Regions from separate parts of the Homo sapiens genome. Here region 1 is linked to region 2. Evidence: fine-mapped expression QTL. A gene starts in region 2. The other region holds a variant in brackets. All regions are shown on one strand. Distances are between the middles of the regions.

Region 1 (4,400 bases), 95 kb after region 2:
ATTGCATTTTTCTTTGTTTTCTTGCATATAGAAAAGAATGCATGGAAAACAGGAGTAAAGGGAAGTGTTGAGAGTGGGATAGCAACTCATTAGGATTCTTGGAGTTCTCTCATAAAGTACTAGCAAAATGGTAGCATCTGTTCTTAACTGGTATTTTTAGGAGATTATCATTTAGAAAGCTTGCTTTTTGAAGAAAACTGGAATATGAAAAGTAAAGAGTTTGCTGGTCTTCTCTTTTGGTATAGGAAATTTAAATACCCTCATATACTAGTCTGGGCTGTCTTAAAGTGGAGAACAGAAAGGGAAAGAAGACAGCTCTTTCATTTGTCCTTTGTCTACAAGAATTTCTGCTTACAACATTTGGGGCCAAATTTTAAAGGCCCAAATAAATCTATCAAGAAATAAAACCCCCTAATACTACTGATTTTTGCAACTCTCAAGTCTGACACAAATTCATAACTTTATAAACTGCCTATGCTCCATTGGTAACTGGGCATTGTGTATGCTCAGTTGACTACCATGAATAGACAATCCCCCAAAAGAAGTGACACTGAACTAATGACTGAAGGTGCTGACCATTTCTGTCTCAACAGAAATTGCCTGAAGGGCCAAGGGCTTCTCAGTCAAGAAGTTATTTTTTTAAAAAAACACCCTTTTCAGGAAGATTGCATAAGTTAACTGGCTTTTTTTAGTGCAATAATGGAACCTAAGTGTTGTCCTCTTCTAAACAAAGGTAAATAGGTTCGGGTTAAAGATAACAATTCAGCTACCTTTTGTTGCCCTTTCTCATTTTTATGAGCCTTAGTCACATTTCGTACCCCCTTCCAGTTATTTCAAAGGAGAATAAAGGCTTTATAAGGAATGACAGTTACTAAATAGATTCTATGGATGCGTACTTTATTAGAATTGTTTAGCCTAATCATTAGAATGGAATCATTTAGAATCATTACATGTGTATCCTTGGTTAAAGGAGATGCAGTCAGTACAGATTTTTATGTGCATTTCTAGGAAATTCTTAGCCACATATTTCTGTTTTTTATGCATGGCAACCTCATAAGTAGACACCAAAAACTGAATCACAGTGGCTGGGTAAAATAAAATTTTTGCAGCTTCCTTCATGTAAATATAATGCCCAAAGGGAGAAAGTTACATCGACAGCTACTGCTACTCAACTGGTCTTCAACCTAAAAAAGAAAAATTGGAAACTGCTCTCCAAGCCCTTAGGGGAATCATAATTTTGACAATTCTAATACTAGTTTCTGACATTCCTATAAGAAATCTTTTCCTCTGTTGTCTAGAGATTGGTAGTACATCATATAAAGCTCTCAAGTTCCTTTCAAAGGAAAGTGTTATTTGAAAGATTTAATAATTTAAAAAGACAAATTGACCAGAAACATCACCTCCCTTTCCCAGTGGAATGGGGTCCACTCACTTTCTCAGCCTGCATTGCCTTTGGATGTCTGTGTCTTCTGATAATTTAGGTCAAATTCTTTCTAACTTGTACTGTGTTTGGCCTGGGTGAAGTTGGTCTCTTTATTATTATGGGTTGCAAAGCTACTGGTGCTTCCAGGATCATTGGTATTGACATCAACAGAAACAAATTTAAGAAGGCCATATCTCTGGGAGCTGCTGAATGTTATTAGTTCCAGGGATCTTGAGAAGCCTATCTGACACGTGCTCATTGAAATGAGTGACAACATAGTATTTGAAGTTACAGGCTTTGTTAAAACCAAGGTGTACTCCCCCCTGTAATTTTTAAGATTGCAGATTTTATGGTTGGGCAACCAATATGATTTGGCTGTGTCCCCCCACCCAAATCTCATCTTTAATTTTAGCTTCTATAATTCCATGTGTCATGGGACAGACCCAGTGGGAGGTAATTGAATCATGGTGGCAAGTCTTTCCTGGGCTGTTCTGGTGATAGTGAATAAGTGCCATGAGATCTGATGGTTTTATAAAGGGGAGTTCCCTGGCACAAGCTCTCTCTTTGCCTGGTGCCATATGAGATGTCTCTTTGCTTTTCCTTTG[T/A]CTTCCACCATGATGGTGAGGCCTTCCTAGCCATGTGGAACTGTGAGTCCATTAAACCTCTTTCCTTTATAAATTACCCAGTCTTTGGTATGTATTTATCAGCAGCATGAGAATGGAGTAATACAGCAACCCATCAGTTGCTGGGAATCTGGCTTTTAATAGCCTCTCAGAGTTGGGACGAGGCCTTTAAGATGATCTAATCCAGCCACTATGTAAGAGCAGGGAATCCCTTTCTTGCTGTTGCTACATTAACACTTCCAGTGAGGGGAAATGTCACACAAGAAAAGGCAGCCATTGCCCTTTCAGAAAAGTGGCAGTTTCTCATGTTCACCCTTTAGATAGCTCTCTCCTTCCTCAATGTATCCACAATCAGAAAGATAGGTTCTTTTAGTATCCCAGAATATAATTTGCCAGCATTCAAACCTACCACTTGCTATTTTACCATCATTTGACCTGTATTAGAATTTGTTTCTTAATGTTTAGTCTACCCATGATCGACCTATCAGAGTTTTCCTTACTGAAAAGATGTAAGAAAAATGACCTGAGTAATTCTGCTTTCTCTAGCTACTCTTTTCTCTTCCTTTTTCCTTGTTTGAGACATAGCATTATAACATTAACCACATTAAAAGCCTCCTTATTTGCCCTTAACTTTTTTTTAAAAAAAGAAAGTCTCAAGTCATTCTTTTGGTCTTTAGTTTTGAGACACTGTTCTTATAGGTCCCGAGACTCTATTTTATTATCCTGGATAGCAGGGCTCTCCTTTAATTTGTTGTTCTCTTCTTTGAGAAGTCTGTTTTAAGAGCTCTAGTGCAGCCATGTTGGAATCGTTACATGTGTATCCCTATTCTTCCTCACAGAGATCATTTGCAGAATCCATTGTCAGAGTTTCATCCTTTAAATATTCCTCCCCTTTGAAACAACTTATTGTCTTGAGTACATAGCCATGGGCTCTAACCTATTTTTCCTAAACTTTAAAAAATTTGGCCTTTACAAAGCTTAAATATAAGTCTGATTCTTCTTAATGTTGCTTCCTTGATGATTAGGAAGGAAATCATCTAAGATGACATGGTCATTTCCATCCTTCATCTTACTACCAAATAACGTTCCCTATTTGCATAGAGTTCAGTCAGGAAAAAGAGTTCTTTTCATTGCTCTTTGAGTTGGTTGGAAAATGCAGCTGTCAGCAAACAAAGGCAAAATGAGACTTCCAGCACATATTCAGTTAGTCTCCAGCACTGCTATTCATCACTGAGCCTTATCTCTATGGTTTATTTTGCCTTTTGATTCTTTGTTGAAGTGCTATCCTCTGCACTTAAACTCAGTTATTGAAACTTCGTAGGGATCTTCTAGGTGCACAGAACATTTATTTTTATTTGTAAGTAATTTTCTCACAAAAGGGGGTTATTTTAATGGACAGATTGTGATAAAAAGAGATTATTTTAACTAATGGGAGGAGAGTGGTTTTGCCAGGGATTGCTAAGCAGGAGCAAATCTGACTCCATAATTAAATGCTGTCTTTATATGAAAAAGTCTCTCTTTTTCATTCTCTGACCTTAAACAAGTTGACTGCCCTGAAATCCTGCAATAAGAATTATGGAAAATGTATGATTAATGGAATAGTTCCTTTTGGAACACACTTCATTTGATCCAGTGCTGCTCTTTTTTGGAAAAATAAATAGAAAGGCTCTCTGGAGGTTAAGGCACTAAGAAGACAATAATTTCTAGTATAAATGTGAACATAGCCATACATAATTGATGTCTTTCCAAAACCCAGATTGCTATTTTACCTGATGAAAAGTATTTTTAAGAAGTTTAAAAAACAAAACTAACAAAACACAAAACAGTAAAATGTGAAGGAAAGATTTTAGCTGCTGTGAGTACCATTCATCTTCACGCCTGGCTGCAATCGATGTCAAGAGAATTCCTCACCAACTCCCATCTGCAGGATGTGTCAACACAGTGGTTTAAGCAGCCTCCACTACCACACCTCCAAGAATTAAAATAAAGGGAAATAACCCATCAGCAGTCCAAGAATTAACATAAAATCAAGGCTTAAAACATTTTGGTGGGGTGAATTGTTTGAAGGTTAACACACAGACAAACACACACACACACACACACACACACACACACATTTTGGCTGTCTTAAAAATAAAAGAGAAAAGCAAAAGTGGGTACACGTTCACATATAGTTTCCAAATCTCTTCTAGTCAGAGGATTCTCTTCTAGACTTCATCATAATTTTCTTTCAGCCACTAAAGGTTTTATAATCATTTTTCAATAGCCAGGACACCCAAGGGTATTTAATCATCAACAGATACAACATGTTCCTATAAATGGAAGAGAGAAAATTCCTTAAAATAAAGGGTACT
Region 2 (4,400 bases):
CAGTTGTCCAAGTTAGAGAAGCCCTTAGGGTTATTATCTCCTCCTTCTTCCTCATTCTATCCACAGCTTTTCAGTCATGTGCAAAACTATGACACGCTTAGGTCTTTGCTTTCACTGTTCCCAATATCTTAAACTTCTTCACTTTTCTGACACCTGTACAACTCCTACTTACTTTCCAAGATGAAACAAAATTATTTAATCTCCAAAACTATGTCCTCTGCCTCAAGGAGCATTTAGTTGCTTCTTTCAAAGTACAAGCATCTCAAGTACATGTTGTATGGTATTTATTTACTGCTGGCTCCCCTATTAGATTAAGGATTCCTTAAGCACAGAGAGCATGATTTCGTCATTTCTGTATCACCAATACTAAGACAAAACGCATAGAACTCGATACATGTGTCAAATAAATAAATACATAAATTTTACAAATCAATGAAAATATTGTTTCACATGATTTCACCGTCTTAAACTTTCTATATGTTTCAATTTTTTGTTAAATTGACTTTTGCTGGTGCTCTTTTGGTGCTTACTTTGGATTAATAATAGAATCATTTTAAATTTTGCACCAAATGACTACAAAGTTAAATGTCTATGTCAAAAGAAAATTTATTGACTTCATTATTAGAATATGAAGTGGTTTTTTTTGCTTTAAAACTTTGTTTAAAATATCTAAGGAGGCCAGGTATTAACTCTGAAAAAACTGTATAATTATTTATAAAACAGATCCCATAGGAGCAACTGAACAGCTGTGGAAAGATTTGGCACATCACTTTGCCAGCCTGAATTTAATGACCTACATGTGAAGGGCTACATATCCAATTACTAATCCTCCCTCAGCTACTCTTTGCCCTCATATGGAGGCAGCTGAAAAAAGATGCCCTACTAACAGATCAGAAGTGGATCCAGACTTTTTTGCCAGTGCTCAGTTAACAAAGATCTTTTAGGTTTGAGATGAGGAAGAAACAGAAGAGGGACTCACAACAGTGTTATAGCTGATACAGTGTTTCAAGTAAAATTTAAGGGCTTATGGCAAGAGTGACTTTAGTTTTGTAACTAAAGTCAAAGAAATTTCGGCTCTTTTAGAGAATCTCAAATTCTGGATTTAATTTTCTATTCACTGAAGCCTTTAAACATGTTCAAATATCTTCAAGGATAATTTACTTCAAAATTCTTTCTATATGAGAAGCCAGTCTTCTATTCAAGATGCAAACCTCATTCTTACCTTCAAATTCTGCAATAATCACCTATTAGAAGTAGAGGAGAAAAAAACTAAATAGAAAATGACAATCTACGGGGTTGTATTTCATTTCTCTCTCAGTTGACATGATCTATATATAGCAAAAGATTATATAAGGTCAAGTATTATAAACAATGAAATGTCATCTGATGTTTTGCAAAACAGCATAGGAAAAATAGCTCAAGGAATGAATAAAGAGTAAAGCTATGGCTGTTTTACTTCAGCCATAAAAAAGCCTTACAGATTCTAAATTTAAATGCATTTTATTGTGAATCTGACTCACTTTTTGAATTTAATTTTCCACTTGAGTTATGTAAAATCATGTGATATGGTAATTTTCTGTATAAATTAAAAATAATATAGGCAAGAGATGTTTTTCTCTCATTTTCAACACAGAAAAATTAGGAGCCTTTCTTCGTTGTTTTGCATTTTTAACAGTGGGACTATCTTAATTCCTTCATCCAATACTCACAAGAATATATGAATGAATACACGTCTGCAGGTACACACTTAATTCTTGAACGGGAAAAAACAGACATCACTGTAACTACCTCCCACTCCCAAAACACTAACTCCAGACCCCGCCCCGCATAAACCCCTCCCCTTTCTTCCATTGCGGGTTCGAAATGGCCGCAGTTCGATGACGTAAGACGCAACCGCCGTAGCCTCCACTGCGTAACTACCGCCCCTGCCTCTGGGAATTGAAGTTTCTGTGGAAGGAAGCGTGAGCCGTAACCAGGCCAACCCAGAAAGGCTTTCTTTCTGAGATTTCACTTCCCTGTCAACTCTTCAGCTCGGTAAGTGTCCTGGCACTGGTTGGCGCTCCCCCGCACTATGGTATTCTCTGGACGCAAAGGGGCGCGTGCCATGCAGCCCCCTACTAGCAACAAGGGCTTCCGGGGGAGAGGGGAGCAGTGGTGTGGAAGTGGTTTCCTGCGGCGCTCTTGCTGAAGGAAATGACGTCGATGACAGGCGCCCCCCGCGGCCTACCCAGCTGCTCCCTGGTTCGCCAGAGACAGCTTAATCCCGTCTCTGAAATGCGTTTGCTGGCTGGGAGCCTAGAAGGGATAGTGGGCGAGGCTCCGCCCCGTGGTGGGGCGCTTTCCGTCGGCGTGTGTTTTGGGGTTGCCATCGGCCCGTAGTATGTGAAAAGTGAGTTTGCAAAGAATCAGTGGGAAATCTGTACTCTAAAGGGCCGGAAAGCGTGTTATGGCCCTGCCACTTCGTGGCTAGAGACCGTGGGCTTTACCTCTTTAAAGCTGCCTTACCTCATTTTTCCTGCAAAGGGCTGACGTCGCTGAACTCTCTGAAATGTAGAGAGCCCGAGGGGAAGTTGCTGCAGGTGCTGTGAGCTGAGGACAGTTTTATAAAGATCGAAGTGTTACTTGATTTCACTGAAATACTTTAAATTTGGGAATTTTTCTACAGATATGAAGAGGATGGCAACACATTACTTGTCACTTTCTGAAAGAATTTCATCTGCCCCTTCCATTCCCAACCCTCTGCCCAAAAGGCTTGACAACTGAAGTGAACAAAGGGCTTTTCGCTCCTCCACGTTTAGTCCGCATGTCTTTTAAAAGGGCATTCCTGGCCGGGCGCGGTGACTCACGTCTGTAATCCCCGCACTTCGGGAGGGCAAGGCGGGTGGATCACCTGAGGTCAGGAGTTCGGGACCAGCCTGACCAACATGGTGAAACCCCGTCTCTACTGAAAATACAAAATTAGCCGGGCGTGGTGGCGCATGCCAGTAATCCCAGCTACTGGGGGGGCTGAGGCAGGAGAACTACTTGAACCCAGAAGGCGGAGGTTGCAATCAGCCGAGATTGCGCCATTGCACTCCAGCCTGGGCAACAAGAGCGAAACTCCGTCTCAAACAAACAAGAAAGGCCGGGCGCAGTGGCTCATGCCTGTAATCCCAGCACTTTGGGAAGCCGAGGCGGGTGGATCACGAGGTCAAGAGATGGAGACCATCCAGGCCAACGTGGTGAAACCCCGTCTCTACTAAAAATAACAAAAATTAGCTGGGCGTGGTAGCGCGCACCTGTAGTCCCAGCTACTCGGGAGGCTGAGGCAGGAGAATCGCTTGAACCCGGGAGGCAGAGGTTGCAGTGAGCCGAGATTGCGCCACTGCACTCCAGCCTGGGCGACCTAGCAAGACTCCCTCTCAAAAAAAAAAAAAAAAAAAAAAAAAAAAGGCATTCCTTTGCTATCGCTGTCAAGTCATTAATTCCAATCTGCATTATTCCCACATTCGTTGAGATTTTTCTGAAAAGGAGACTGTCATAAATTAACGACGATTATTTATTTTATCCCAATCCATAACTTAATGCAGTTTTAAAAAACTTTTTTTTTTCTTTTGGTGCTCATTGATGTAGGATGTGTCCTTGCCTTACAAAGTGAGATAGTTTGTAAGCCCACTTAATAACCTATGTCTGCGAATGAACCCCACAAATTTTTAAAATTTTATGCAGGAGTAAAATTTCACACACACACACACACACACACACATATATATATATATAATTTTTTTTTTTTTTTGGAGACGGAGTCTTACTCTGTTGCCCTAGTTGGAGTGCAGTGCTGCGATCATGGCACACTGCAACCTCTGCCTCCCGGGTTCAAGCGATTCTTCTGCCTCAGCCTCCCGAGTAGCTGGAATTACAGGCGTCCACTACCACGCCTGGCTAATTTTTGTATTTTTAGTAGAGACGAGGTATCGCCATGTTGGTCTTGAACTCCTGACCTCAGGTGATCCGCCCACCTCAGCCTCCCAAAGTGTTGGGATTACAGGCATGAGCCACTGCGCCCGACCTCACACAAATATTTTTATAGTTACTGTAAAATACGTTCTTGAACATTTGTTGAACTTGGTTGAATGAATGAAAATGTACTGTGAGCATCACTGCATGTGAGAAAGGAATGAAAAACTCTGCCATGGAATTTTATAAATTATTGCCCAAACTAAAACAATTAGAAAGCAAGTATACCTAATAAAATGCTGTTTTGCTTAACAGGTAATCTGAACACGCTAGTACATAGTGCAGTGTAGATATACATTATACTTATTGTATAGTGTAGACAGTGCGAGTTGGTAGATATCTTTGTAAAGTATACTATACGGAATAATTTATAAGATATCAGGTTAGCATCATTTTTGTTGCAT

Which allele goes with the higher level. Positions count from the first base shown, and alleles are read on the strand shown. Sizes are in standard deviations (SD) of each study's normalised expression.
In carriers of allele A in region 1, the expression in anterior cingulate cortex of the gene that starts at base 1,908 in region 2 tends to be higher than with T alone (large effect, 1.1 SD a copy in GTEx).

The links. PIP is the estimated chance that this variant, and not a neighbour inherited with it, causes the effect.
Region 1: its variant is fine-mapped to the expression of TRMT10A in anterior cingulate cortex (GTEx, PIP 0.98). The same link has a PIP of 0.9 or more in thyroid.

Annotation. Positions count from the first base shown.
Region 1 is chr4:99,466,898-99,471,297 of GRCh38, reverse strand. No RefSeq gene overlaps it. Among named protein-coding and RNA genes, the nearest start is that of ADH7, 34 kb to the right of the region's middle. The variant T/A (reference allele first, on the strand shown) is at 2,029.
Region 2 is chr4:99,561,547-99,565,946 of GRCh38, reverse strand. TRMT10A (tRNA methyltransferase 10A) reads left to right here and starts at 1,908. Exons shown (of 8, transcript NM_001134665.3): 1 at 1,908-2,034. It also overlaps a transcript of MTTP not described here. RefSeq lists enhancers at 1,830-1,889, 2,240-2,369, 1,605-2,804.